Linked DNA regions of Homo sapiens: region 2 is linked to region 1. A link means that fine-mapping ties the variant in region 1 to the expression of a gene that starts in the linked region. Tissue or cell type: monocytes. Region 1 holds a variant in brackets; the other region holds the start of a gene. All regions are shown on one strand. Distances are between the middles of the regions.

Region 1 (8,265 bases):
ATCAAAAGTTCAATCTCATGCCCCTGAGATAAATAAGCTGGCATAAGGAACTCTATGACCATATTTGATGGGGCAAGAGGAGTGGTGAGAAAGGATGAAAGGAGAAAGAACAGCTGCCTTAGACACCCACTCCCTATGAGCTGTGTGACCTTGATCAAGTTACTTGACCTCTCTGAGTCTCAAATTCCTCCCACATGAAATGACCCTGAGTGACTACCTGAGGGTTGGAGGAGGATTAAATGGATAAATATTTGTCAAGCACTTAGAACTGTACCTGGCAAATAAGTGCTACATAAGAGCTCGTTCAATAAATAAAATCATGTTGTCGTAGTTATTTCTAAATTGCCAAGCCATGATAGCAGTGGGAATACAACAGCAGCTCCCTCTGCTTCTGGTGACGCAGTAGCGTCTGGAAATACTCCACTGAGGAGCAGACAAGTCCTCTGAGCCGCCATCCCCATCACAGTGCACCCAGGCTTGCCTCCTTAGCCCTTTAATAACTCATGACCTTATTTACTGACCCTACATCTCTGTGTAGCAAGTTCCTCAGTTTGAAAGTGTTTTTCTACACATGGTGTGCTTCTAAGTCTTACCTCAGTCCTGTAAGGCAGATGGAGCAGACAGTCTGTCACAAATTAGGAAACTGAGGCCTGAGCAGGCGCCTGACTTGGCCAAGCTTGGAAAGCTGTCAGGTCAGGGCTTCAGCCCCGGCCGGAAGTGTCCCAGACTCACGCCTGGCTCACTGTTGAGCCTGCCAGGAGATTCCTTTTTTCTTTTTTCCTATATATTTCAAAATATTTTCATTATGAAACATACTTTAAAAGTTTATACACACGCAAACATACATTTTAAATAATAATAATAGGCCAGGCATAGTGGCCCACGCCTATAATCCCAGCACTTTGGGAGGCTGAGGCGGGCGGACTGCTTGAGCCCAGGAGGTTGAGACCAGCCTGGGAAATGTAGTGAGACCCTGTCTCTACAAAAAATAAAAATAAAAATAAATTATTCAGGCATGGTAGTGTTTGCCCATATTCTTAGCTACTGAGGAGGCTAAGGCAGGATGATCGCTTGGGCCCAGGAGTTCAAGGTTACAGTGAGCTGTGATCATGTCACTGCACTCCACCCTAGGCAACGAAGCAAAACCCTGTTTCTATTAAAAAAAATAACTAATAAATAAATAATGATGAACTAGTACCTACTTAAGAAATAGAATGTTACCTTGGAAACTCTATGTGCCCCTATTTTTCTGATAATAGCATACTTGGTCATTTATTATAACAAACATAAGCATTCACATAACTCTATAACAAACATAGTGAAAGGCCTCTTTCTAGCCACTTAGCATAGAGCAGCTCTATCCTGTAGAACTTCAAGATGACAGAAATGTTCCGTATTTGTGCTGTCCAATATGGTAGCCACTAGCCATATATGGCTATTGAGAACTTGAAATGTGGCTAGTGCAACTGAGGAACTGAATTTTAATTTTATTTAATTGTTAATAGCTGCACACATGTGTACACACACATTCTTATTAATATCCTAAGAATGAGTAATGTTTTTCTTTCCTTCTAATAACACGTCATGGCCATCTTCCCATATCACTACATATTGATCTACTTTATTATGTTTAATGGTAGCTTGACTATTCCATTTAGGAGATATTACATTTTATTTAACCAGTCCCCTATGGGTAGATATTTAGGGAGTTTCCCCTTTTGTGGTTACTGTAAAGAATGAGCGAATCTGTGGGTCTTCGGGATGACATGACCATGTTTGTAAGGTGCCTTCTCAGCAATGGAACTTCTGAATCAAAGGGTCCAGAAATTCTTAGTTATGACTCCAATACCCACCCCCACCAGAGCCTAGAAATAGCATTGCAGAAAAGATGTTGAGAAGTATAATGCTTATAGCTCTGAAGGATGTACAGCCACAAATGTGTATCACTCAGAGCTCTGGGGGCAGATAAACCCTAAAATCAGTGGTCACTTTGCCATTCACTCACTGTGGTAGGCAGAAAAACATCTCCCCACCCCCCACAAAGATGCATACACTTGTCACCAAAACCTGTGAATATTATCTTATATGGCAAAAGATGCAATTCAGATAAGAATTTTGAGAAGAGAAGCTGGTCCCAGATTATCCAGGTGGGCCATAAACGCAATCACATGTGTCCTTATAAAGGGGATGCAGAAGTTACTAGAGACAGAAGAGGAGAAGACACAGACACGCATAGAGAAGAAGGTGATATGGAGACAGACGCAGGAACTGGAGTAATGCAGCCACCAGGAGCTGAAAGAGAAAAGAAGCAGATTCCCCCCTAGAGGGAATACAGCCCTGCCCCACCTTAATTCTGCACTTATGGCCTCCAGAACCATGAAAGAATAAATTTCTGTTGTTTGAAGCCATGAAGGCTGTGGTCATTTGTTATAGCAGCCACAAGAAACCAATAAACTCACAGTGTGACCTTGGACATCTCTGAGCTGCAGTTTCTACATCTGAAAAGTGAGAATAGGAAGAGTTACCTTGGAGAGCTGTGATGACCAGAAAGATTGTCTATGAAGTACTTTGCATGGTTCCTGGAACTGTATAGGTGCTAGACACAGGTGCAGTGGAGGCTGAGAGAAAAGGCACCCGAGTCAGGCTGGTGTCACCACTTCCTGTGGGGCATTGAGCAGGTGATTTAGGATTTGCAAGATATTGGATGAGATGACTCAAGTAGGGCTTAGAATACTCCTTGAACACAGCAAGTGCTTGATAAATGCTACCTATGGTTTCTTTTATTGCCTCCATTAGTACTACCCCTGTATTAGCCCGTTCAAACTGCTATTACAAAATACAGCAGGCTGCATGGCTTACACAACAGAAATTTGTTTTCTTACAGTTCTGGAGGCTAGAAGTCCACGATCAAGGTGTCAGCAGGGTTGATTTCCTTTGGGGTCTCTCTCCTTGGTTTACAGATGGCTGCCTTGTAGCCATGCCGTCACATGGTCTTTCCTCTGTGCACTCATGCCCTTGATGTTTCTCTTTATGTCCGAATTGCCTCTTCTAGGACACACACACAAAAATGGAAAGACATTCCATGTTCACTGATTGAAAGAATCGATATTGTTAAAATGTCCATACTATCTAAAGCAGTCTACAGATTGAATGCAATTCCAATCAAAATACTAATGACATTCTTCACAGAAATAGAAAAAACATCCTAAAATTTATATGAAACCATGAAAGACCCAGAATTGCCAAAGTCTCCAGAGCAAAAAGAACAAAACTGGAGGAATCACATTACCTGACTTCAAATTATACTACAGAGCTGTAGTAACCAAAACAGCATAGTACTGGCATAAAAAACAGACACACAGATTAGTGGAGCAGAATAGAGAACCTAGAAACAAATCCATACATTTAGAGTGAACTAATTTTTGACAAAGGTGCCAAGAACATACACTGAGGAAAGGACAGTCTCTTTAATAAATGGTGCTGGGAAAACTGGATATTCATATGCAGAAGAATGAAACTAGACCCCTATCTTATATATAAAAATCAAACCAAAATAGGTTAAAGACTTAAACCTAAGACCTTATACTATGAAACTACTAAAAGAAAGCATTAGGGAAACTCTCCAGGACATTGGACTGGGCAAAGATTTCTTGAGTAATACCCCACAAGCACAGGAAACCAAAGCAAAAATGGACAAATGAGATCACATTGAGCTAAAAAGCTTCTGCCCAGCAAAAGATACCAATCAACAAGGTGAAGAGACAACCCACAGAATGGGAGAAAATATTTGCAAACTATCCTTCTGACAAGGGATTAACAACCAGAACATATAAGAAGCTCAAACAACTCTATAGGAAAGAAATATAATAATCTGATTTTAAAATGGCCAAAATACCTGAATAGACATTTCTCAAAAGAAGACCTACAAATGGCAAACAGGTATATGAAAAGATGTGCAACATCATTTGATGTGGTTTGGCTCTGTGTCCCCACCCAAATCTCATGTTGAATTATAATCCCCATGTGTCAGGAGAGGGACCTGGTAGGAGGTGATTGGATCATGGAGGCAGTTTCCTCCATGCTGTTCTCATGAAAGTGAGTGAGTTCTCATGAGATCTGATGGTTTTAAAGTGTGTGGCAGTTCCAGCCTTGCTCTCTGTCTCTCTCTCCTGTCACTATGCTTTCCCTTTGCCTTCCCCCATGATTGTAAGTTTCCTGAGGCCTCCCTAGCCATGCGGAACTGTGAGTCAATTAAAACTCTGCTTTATAAATTACCCAGTCTCAGGTAGTTCTTTACAGCAGTGTGAAAATGGACTAATACATCATTGATCATCAGAGAAATGCAAATCAAAACTACAATGAGATATTATCTCCCCCTAATTAAAATGGCTTTTATGCAAAAGACAGGCAATAGCAAATGCCGGTGAGGATGTGAAGAAAAGGGAACCTTCATATACTGTTGGTGGGAATGTAAATTAGTGCAACCACTATAGAGAACAGTTTGGAGGT[A/T]CCTCAAAAAACAAAAAATAGGGCTACCATATGATTCAGCAATCTCACTGCTGAGTATATACCCAAAAGAAAGGAAATCAGAATACAAAGGAGATATCTGCACTCCCATGTTTATTGCAGCACTATTCAAAATAGCCAAAATCTGTATGCAATCTAAGTGTCCATCAACAGACGAATGGATGAAGAAAATGTGGTACATGTACATAATGGAGTACTCTTCATCCATAAAAAAGAATGAGATCCTGTCATTTGCAACAACATGGGTGGAACTGGATATCATTATGTTAAGTGAAATAAGCCAGCCACAGAACAACAGACTTCACATGTTCTCATTTATTTGTGGTAGCTAAAAATTAAAATGATTGAACTCACGGAGACAGGAAAATGATGGTTACTAGAGACTTGGAAGGGGTAGTTGTGGTGGGAGGAAGGGGGGATGTTAAATGGGTAAAAAAATATAGTTAGGTAAAATGAACAAGATCTTGTACGTGATAGCACAATAGGGTGACTACAGTCAACTATATTTTAAAATAACTAAGAATATAATTGGAATGTTTGTAACACAAAGAAAGGAGAAATGCTTGAAGTGATGGATACCCCATTTACCCTGATGTGATTATTATGCATTGCATGCCTGTACCAAAATATCTCATGTACCCCATAAATATACACACTAAGTACCCACAAAAATTAAAAATTAAAAGAAATATTCTATGCCCAATGTCTCCAAGTTAGAGAAACTAGAATTTTGGTCCATATTTCTTTCGGAAGGACCAATGCCATTTACATTAAGAAAAATCCCCTTCAAAAGCAACTTAAAAGTTTTGGTGCTGAAAGGGTTAACTTCAGTTATCTGGAAAGCCCAGGCCCTGGGTCCGGGAAATTCGGTGGCAGTTACAGGGTTACTGGGAGGTATCACAGGCCTTGCTAACACTCAGCTTATATGAGTTTCATCAAAAACTTCCAAGATGTGTTTCTAGGAGAAAAAGAATGTGTCATCTCACTTTCTCCTCACAGCTGCCACGCCAGGGCATGGAGATGGGGCACAGCCCTGCCTGCTGGGGCAGTGGGTAGAGGAAGATGCTGCACTTAGTGGAAAATGCAAATGAATTCCACTAGGGCTCCAACCTTTGACTCTGAAAAGGGAAGTAGAATCATGGCCCAACAACTTAAAATAAAGAAGTGGGTGGCTTATAATAACTCTGAGGCTTCCAGGAAAAAGCCATTCTGAGTGTAAGTAACAAAGAAGTCAAAGAAAACAGCCATGCCATCTGATGTGCCTGCCTGGAAAACAAGGAGAAACTAGTTACCACGGAAACAAGAGAGATGGCCTCTTTTACACACAACCCTCGGAAGCTTCTGCAGTCAGAAAGCCCAGCGTGCAAATCCTTCCCTGGACCATGAACACAGGAATGACCCAATGTCCTTCCACACCACCAGGATTTAGATAATGATCGGTCAAACTCAACTGATCCATTCTCTAATTGCAGTCAGAATGGTCTTTCTAATGACAACCTTGATGATCATGATAGCACCATTTACTGACTGCCAACTGTGAGGCGGGCACTTGACATGTATTATCTCAGCATTTTAAAAATGAACTTAGAGGGTCTTGACTTTTAGTGAAATGGAATAGAAAATATCGGAGTGCATCACATTTGGAGAAAATAAATTTATTCATGATTACTGGGTTAAAATGCCTCATTTATTTCATACCTCATATGGCACTCAAAACTACATGAAAGCACCTGTTTGGAAGCACCTGTGTCTGATCTTACAACCACCAGAAGGCAGGTGCTATTACCAGCCCCAGCTTACAGAAAGGCAAATGGAGGTACAGAGTGTTTAACTTGTCTCAGGTAACACATCTCATGAGAAACGATGCTGGAACTAGAACCCAACAGTCCATAGCCCACAACGCTTATGTCACTCTTTGCTGCGATGCCTTCAACTGTTCCCCACAAGTCTTAGAATAAATTCACAAACTCCATCCTCACAGGCTCACTTCTCACCACTCTGAAGTCTGCTCATTGGCCTGCCTTCATGTCTTCCACCAGCACCTGCTCTGCCCCACCTCAGGACCCTTCCATGTGCTGTGGCCTCTATGTGAAATATTTCCCACCCAACTCTCCAGGTTCAAACCTGCACCCCCTTTATAGCCCACCTTCACTTGCTCAGAGACACCCTCCTTTCTCCTCACCCCTGATTAGGTTCCACCACCCCAGAGAGCACCCTCCCCACCTCCTTTGTCGTCTTGTCATAATCTGCCTTAATAAATGACTACAGAATTATTTGTTATAGGTTTGTGAGGCCCATAAGGGCAGGCACTGTCTGTCATGTTCTCAGGTACATCCCCAGGGCTTAGCACAGGGCCTAGTGAAGCAGGAATTCCACAGATATTCTCTGAATGAGTAAATGAGCCAGCTGTGTGTGAGGCATCATTGCTGAGAGACAGGAACCATAAGCAGGTGTCGGCTCAGAACATCAACATTTAAAATTACATGGGCATTTTGGGAGGCCAAGGCGGGTGGATCACCTGAGCTCAGGAGTTCGAGACCAGCCTGGCCAACATGGCGAAACCCCCGTCTCTACCAAAAATACAAAACTAGCCAGGTATGGTGGCGGGCGCCTGTAATCCCAGCTACTCAGGGGGCTGAGGCAGGAGAATTGCTTGAACCCAGAAGGCGGAGGTTGCAGTGAGCCGAGGTCGTGCCATTGCACTCCAGCCTGGGTGACAAGAGCAAAACTCTACCAAAAAAAAAAAAAAAAATACATGGGGCTTCACCATGGGTAAACACCATGGTACTGAAATCTGACTAACTTGGCTTCAAATCCAGCCTCTACAGCTTATTAGCTGGATGACCTGCGTATGTTCCTCATAGGCTCTGAATTTCAGTGTCCTTGTCTGTCAAATGGTTGTAATGCTTATGTGCACGTTGTTAAGATGAAAATGAGATAACCTAGATCACGGCCTCGCCCTGAGTAGGGGCGCAAAAAGCTATAGTTAGTATTAATATTTTTATACAACATTGTGTTCTTCACAAAACCCTCTTAGGCTTTGCAAGGTGATGGGTGGTGGGGTTGAGGGAGACAGGCACTTGAACGCATGGCTGGAGGGAGAGCAGTCTGAATTGACTGCTGTGGAAGGAAATGTGACAAGATCTACCGAAGTGACAAAGGCCATACCCTCTGACCAACAAATGTATTTCCAAGAATTTTATTCAAGGCACGTCAAGTGGCTTATGTAACATGGGTTTTTACTGCAGCCTTCTTTATAACAACAATGAGCTGGAAATAAGTGCTCACCAACAGGGAACTGGCCATATGTAAACTATGGTGTCCCATATACTGGAAGGTGATGCAGCTCTAAGAAAGAGCCGACCTTGAGCCGATCGTGGTGGCTTACGCCTGTAATCCCAGCACTTTGGGAGGCCGAGGCAGGCAGATCACGAGGTCAGGAGATCCAGACCATCCTAGCTAACACGGTGAAACCCCGTCTCTACTAAAAATACAAAAAAATCAGCCGGGCTTGGTGGCGGGCGCCTGTAGTCCCAGCTACTCCGGAGGCTGAGGCAGGAGAATGGCGTGAATCCGGGAGGCGGAGCTTGCAGTGAGCCGAGATCGCGCCACTGCATTCCAGCCTGGGCGACAGAGCGAGACTCCGTCTCAAAAAAAAAAAAAAAAAAGAAAGAAAGAGCCGACCTTGAATGAAAGAAAGGCTAAACACAGAGCCACGTGTACATTATGCTACCATCT
Region 2 (5,973 bases), 95 kb after region 1:
GTTCACAAGAAAGCTGGTCATTTAAAAAGAGCCTGGCACTCTCTTGCACCCTTTCTCACCGTGTGACATGCTCCCCCCTCACCTTCTGCCATGAGTAAAACTCCCTGAGGCCTCACCAAAAGCTGAGCAGATGCAAGTGCCATGCTTGTACAGCCTGCAGAAACGTGAGCCAAATAAACCTCTTTTCTTTAAAAATTACCCAGTCTCAGGTATTCCTTTACAGCAACACAAAACAGACTAACAGAATTGCTTTTATGCATTTCTACAAAAAAAAAAGATATTTCACTTGTACTTCATTATTCTGCTGATTAAATTATAGTGGGGCAGGGATGGAGGACTTTCAAGCAGTCAAAGACTTTCCTGGGTACACAGAGCTCATCTCACAACATACTTAAGAAAGCTCCTGATGCACCTGTCACTCCTGTTGCCAGCCCCTGCATCACAAGTGGTGCAAGCAGCGATGAAGTGTTTGTCGTTGTTGTTGTTGTTGTTGTTTACCTTTATAGTTTTCTGCTAAGAAGAAAACATTTTAGCAGCACAGACCAAACTCCAGTAGGTAAAAGCTCTAAGAAGCCTGGATGATGAAGGCCCAGAGAAGTAAATAATGAAGTGGGTTAAAGCTTGAATCTCTACTCCCCTCCCCGCCACTCGCTGAATAATCTCTTTTGGGTGAATTCGTTAACCTTTCTGAGCTCCAGATTCCTCTTCCATATGCAGAAGAACTCCTAGGGTTCTTTATGAAAACTAAATGAGATGCTATTTGTGTAGCAGGATGTAAAAATGACTATGGTCTCAGTTCAGGTATTGCCAAGGACAAAAGACATGTTTCAAAGTGAGCTGTGACACTGAGGCCATCATGCAGGGCTGACAAAAGAAGTGGCACGAAACTGGTTTCCCTCTTAACTGACCATCTTCAGCCCACAAAGAAAGCTGGGTGAGAAGAACAGTTGGTGGTGTAGAGGAGGAATTTTGGAGAAAGCAATAGGAGCACTCCAAGTCCCAATTGCCCACTACCCACCCTCCAAGATTGGCCTCCAAGATGCTGTGTCCCTGGAGGTTGACTGTCACTGAGGGCTGATGTCTGAATCATGTCTGTGAATCCCAAAATACAAGAGAGATGGAGTGATCAGCTGGAGTGGAGAGAACGTGGTAGCTTTGGATTTCCTGGGATAATGAAACGAGCATTTTCCATAAGCCAGAGATGTACTGTGGCCAACCTCTGGGATGTGTAGGTCCTTCTGACAAGGACCACCAGGAGGAATGGAAATTTACCTTCAGAGAAAAGCTGACAGCACTTGTTGTGGCCTCAACTATCCTCCCAAAATTTATATGATGAAGCCCTAACCCCCAGGACCTTAGAATGTGACTGCATTTAGAAGCAGGACCTTTAAAAATGTGATTAAGTTAAAATGAACCCCTTAGGGTAGGCCTTAATCCTCTCTGACTGCTGTCCTTATAAGAAGAGGACATTTGCACATGCCAAGAGACACCAGGAATGCACACACAGAGGAAAGACCATGTGAGAACTCAGTGAGAAGGTGGCCATCCACAAGCCAAGGACAGAGACCTCAGGAGAAAACAAACCTTCCAACACCTTGATCTTGGACTTTTAACCTCCAGAACTGGGAGAAAATTAAGTTCTGTTGTTTAAGCCCGGGGCCCCCAACTCCCGGGCCATGGACCAGTACTGGTCTGTGGTCTGTTAGGAACCAGGCCACACAGCAGGGACAGAGAGAGCACGAAGCTTCATCCATATTTACAGCTGCTCCCAATCATTCACATTACCACCTGAGCTCCACCTCCTGTCAGATCAGCAGCAGCATTAGATTCTCATAGGAGCACAAACCCTATTGTGAACTGCGCATGTGAGGGGTCTAGTTTGCATGCTCCTTATGAGAATCTAATGCCTGATGATCTGTCACTGGTTCCCATCACCCCCATATGGGACTGTCTAATTGGAGGAAAACAAGTTTAGGGCTCCCACTGATTCTACACTGTGGTGAATTGTGTAATTATTTCATTATATATTACAATGTAATAATAATATAAATAAGGTTCTCAATAAATGTAATGCACTTGAATCATCCTGAAACCATCCCTACCCTGGTCTGTGGAAAAAAGTGTCATCTACAAAACTGGTCTCTGGTACCAAAAAAATTGGGGACTGCTGGTTTAAGCCCCTCAGTCTGTGATATTTTGTCATGGCAGTCCCAGCAAACTAATACGGCACTGCTTAGATGCCAGGGAACTAAGGAAGGAGTCTTATTAGGCAACCAGCTTCAAGGGACCAGCAACTCAGAGATCCCCAAAGATGAGAAATAATGGTGCTCTCTGAAGTATCCACAAGATTGTGCCTAGAGAGAAAGAACTAGGTTTACACACCCACCAGAACCTGCCACTGAAATGCCAGCTTGCCACAGCATTAACCAAGTACGGACTTCCAGCTCCTTTCCTGCCTCTTCTCTTTTCCCCTTCCCCCTGCCAGGAGTCAGAATCATCAGTAAGCCAGAGGAGAGAAGGATGGAAGCTTAACGTGGGAAATGAGAAGCCAACCACAGACCCCCTTTCCAAGCTGCAGGCCCCACTGGAGGAGGGAGAAAAGTCTCCACTGGGAACCAAATTCAAAGATCTGGCTGATTCCCTGGGACTGGACATCCCAATTGCTGAATGAGGCTGTGCTGGAACTAAAAGCGACTTAAGAACTTTTGATTCCTGAAGGGGGCCCATAAGAGTTGTGGACCTACCTTAATTTTCATCCCAGGGCAAGGGAAGAGGGAGGACCTGCTGAAAAAAATTAGGGACAATGATAGGCAAAAATAAAGTTTGCTTCCATAATATACCATGAGTCCTGTGTATTTGACGTATGTTCTCTTACATATGAGGCAACTTAGCCTGGTCTCTGGCCAAAAAAGAGATACCACTCATTGAGCAATTCTTACCCTTTCAAATTCCTTCACTGTCGTCATTGAGCAATTCCATCTTCTTCAAGCAAGACAAAAGCTGATGCCAATAGAAAAATCATTTAAAATAAACAAACGAAAAAATTCCTTAAGCTGTCAACTTGGGTGCAGATGTTCTATGAAGCCAGAAACTGAATGTCACCCTCTATACACCATGACCTAGAGAAGCAGAATAACTCCAGACCAGCAGGGCTGGGCGGGTCTAAGATTCCCATACTACTTAAGAGAAAACTGAATTCAAATCCAGGCTCTGCCATTTAACAACTGTGTGACCCCGGGTGAATGACTTAAATTATCCGTACTTCAATTTCCTCATCCATAAAATAGAGATCATAAAGTATCTATCTGATGAAATAGCTGCAAAACAGTTAGAATGCTGCCTGGCACAGGGCAAAGGACTCACAATACACATAGCTATCATCATATATCATTGCCTCTCAAAGTGAAATATTGTGATGACCTTGGTTTATTAGCAGGATGTTGTAAAAAAAAATGCTTTACAAGGGGCATGATGACGAAAAGCGCAGATTCTAGAACCCGACTCCCTGGGTTTGAAAGAAGCAAGAATCTGAGGCATGTTGTATAAGGGTTTGCTATCATTACTATTCATTCAATGAGAGACATACAGTAATAGGTATACATATGCAATACATAGAGAAAGAGCTTAGTACTAGCAGCTATTATTAAGGCAACAGCCACCTCAGTAAATCTACATGGGCCATGAAGACCCTGGTCACCCAGAGATATCAGAGGCACTGAACAGGGCCAGACAGACAGAGGGTATTTTTCTAACTGGGAGGCTGCTGAACTTGACCTCTGTTGCTTTTCATTATTTATTTAACAGCAGATGGTGGCTTTCAAGAAAATCGGATGTCTTGAAGCCAGAAACCCATCCTCCTTGGGCTGGATACTCAGCCATCCCCTGCAACCCCACCCCCTAGCCCCAAGCTCTCATTGTCTCTCTTGTGTTACCTGGTCTGGTTTCTTCTTCCAGGGCAGGTCCCACCTTGCTGGGGAGAGGTGAATGACCATGGCCTTCCAGCCTCCCGAGAAGGGGATGTTCCAACGGGCGCAGAGATCTCTGGGCCTGGCTTGCCACTCACTGACCTGGGGCCTGAAGACTGACAGAGAAGCAGGCAGAAAATATAAAAAGCTGATACCCCCTGCAGGAAATCATTGTTTAGCCCATTCCAGACTAAAAAAACAAGTGCAACATTGGAGAAAGGAGGGTAAAGTGTCATTCGGGGCCATTGTTACAGCGGCTGCTCTGTGTGGTGGGGAAACAAAGCAGGCCTGTGTATGTGAGGACAATGCTGTTGTGTTACTAGCTGCTTCTGTGTTACTCCTGGGGACAGGAGGATGAGAAACGAGGCCACAGTGTCTTCCCTGGTGGACTTCACTCATCATAGTAGCCAGGCCAATCAGAGCTGGGAGAGGAATTTTGGACATTTAGCCCATGGCATTATGTAATAAGGGTCAGGGGACGTGCCTTCAGGTGTGACCACCTGCCTCTTTGTTAGTCTTCTATACATGAGAGATCACAAATGTCCCTCTCCTTTTCTCTTACTTGCTTTCAGAAACTTACCCCAAGTTAGAGCTGAAAAGAATGAGACATATCATTTCTCTAAACACAAATGTCATCCACTTCAATGCCTAACTTTTGTGATGGGACATCTGGCTGGGACTAAACCTCAGCCATGCAGCACGTTAGCAGCAGTTGGCAAGACTAGATGAATATTATAAAGCTTGCACCCACTGAACCCCCATAATGAACCAGACACTAGGTCATGAGCAACCTTGCAAAATGACCTCATTCGCTCCTGACTTCAAATTCTGACTCTGCAACTATTACCCATGGACTGTGAGCAAGTGTTTTCTCTGGGTGTTAGTTTTCCCATCTGTAAACCGGGATTATGATTGGGTTCCTAGGAGGATTAAATGAATTAATATATGCAAAACTCTTAGAACAGTGGCTGGCCCATAAAAGTGATCAAGAACCACAAATCACAAATTAGATGCCCACATTACACCTGAAACTTGCTTGTACTCATGAGGAGATGGTATGGGGATGGCTGGAAAGCCAGGATCCCAAGTGTCTGTATTTAGCCCTGTTACCTACTATGGCCTAAGTTCACCCTGTTAGGTCCCTGAAGGAATTGGGCACTAATAAATATTCTCAAGTATGAGACAGGTGACAAATGTGTGGAGAGGGCCCACTGTGATGCAACAGTGTGTGGCGGGAACTGTGGGGATTTGAAAGCTCACACCAGTCTTCAGAGGGCAGCCAGGGCTCAGCCTCAGCCAAATACTGCAATGCAGAAAGGTGGAAACAGCATGGTTGGGCCTGCACATTTTTAAAGAAAAGCCAGAAGGCTGGATTTTTTATGTCGAGTTTTCCAATTTTGAAACACTGTGGACCAAACACAACATTGTTAATGCAATGTGAGCCCTAGATCATGCAGTTTGTGATGCCTGATCTGGAAATTTCCAGATTTCCAGCATTTCCAAGCCAGTGCAACCCTGCTGACACTCAGAGCTTTTGTCCCCAACTTGCGCTACGGTCTGAGTGTATGCGTCCCCCACAAATTCATATGCTGAAATCTTCACCCCCAGGTGATGGTATTTGGAGGTGGGACCTATGGGGGGTGATTAGGTCATGAGTGTGGAGCCCTCATGAATGGGATTAGTGCCCTTATAAAGAGGCCCAAGAGAGCTCCCTTGCCCACAGCCACCATTTGAGGACACAGTGAGAAGACACCATCTGTGAACCAGGAAACCGTCCTCATCAAACATAGAATCTGCCAATGCCTTGGTCTTGGACTTCCCAGCCTCCAGAACTATGAGCAACACATTTCTGTTGTTGATAAAGCCACCCAGTTTATGGTATTTTGTTATATTAGCCCATATGGACTAAGACGACTGGTGAGCTGATCAGGCCACGTCAAAGCCACAAAGGGGGCATAAAGTCAAAAAGATTGATCAGCCCTTTCCCCCTGCAACCCACCCTCATCTC

Evidence for each region. PIP is the estimated chance that this variant, and not a neighbour inherited with it, causes the effect.
Region 2: PRR5L starts here. The variant in region 1 is fine-mapped to the expression of PRR5L in monocytes (TOPMed, PIP above 0.99). The same link has a PIP of 0.9 or more in monocytes after Pam3CSK4, monocytes after R848, neutrophils and whole blood.

The regions. Positions count from the first base shown.
Region 1 is chr11:36,388,629-36,396,893 of GRCh38, reverse strand. The region is part of intron 1 of PRR5L (proline rich 5 like); the gene reads right to left. Among named protein-coding and RNA genes, the nearest start is that of PRR5L, 96 kb to the right of the region's middle. The variant A/T (reference allele first, on the strand shown) is at 4,510.
Region 2 is chr11:36,294,398-36,300,370 of GRCh38, reverse strand. PRR5L (proline rich 5 like) reads right to left here and starts at 4,083. Exons shown (of 9, transcript NM_001160167.2): 1 at 3,933-4,083.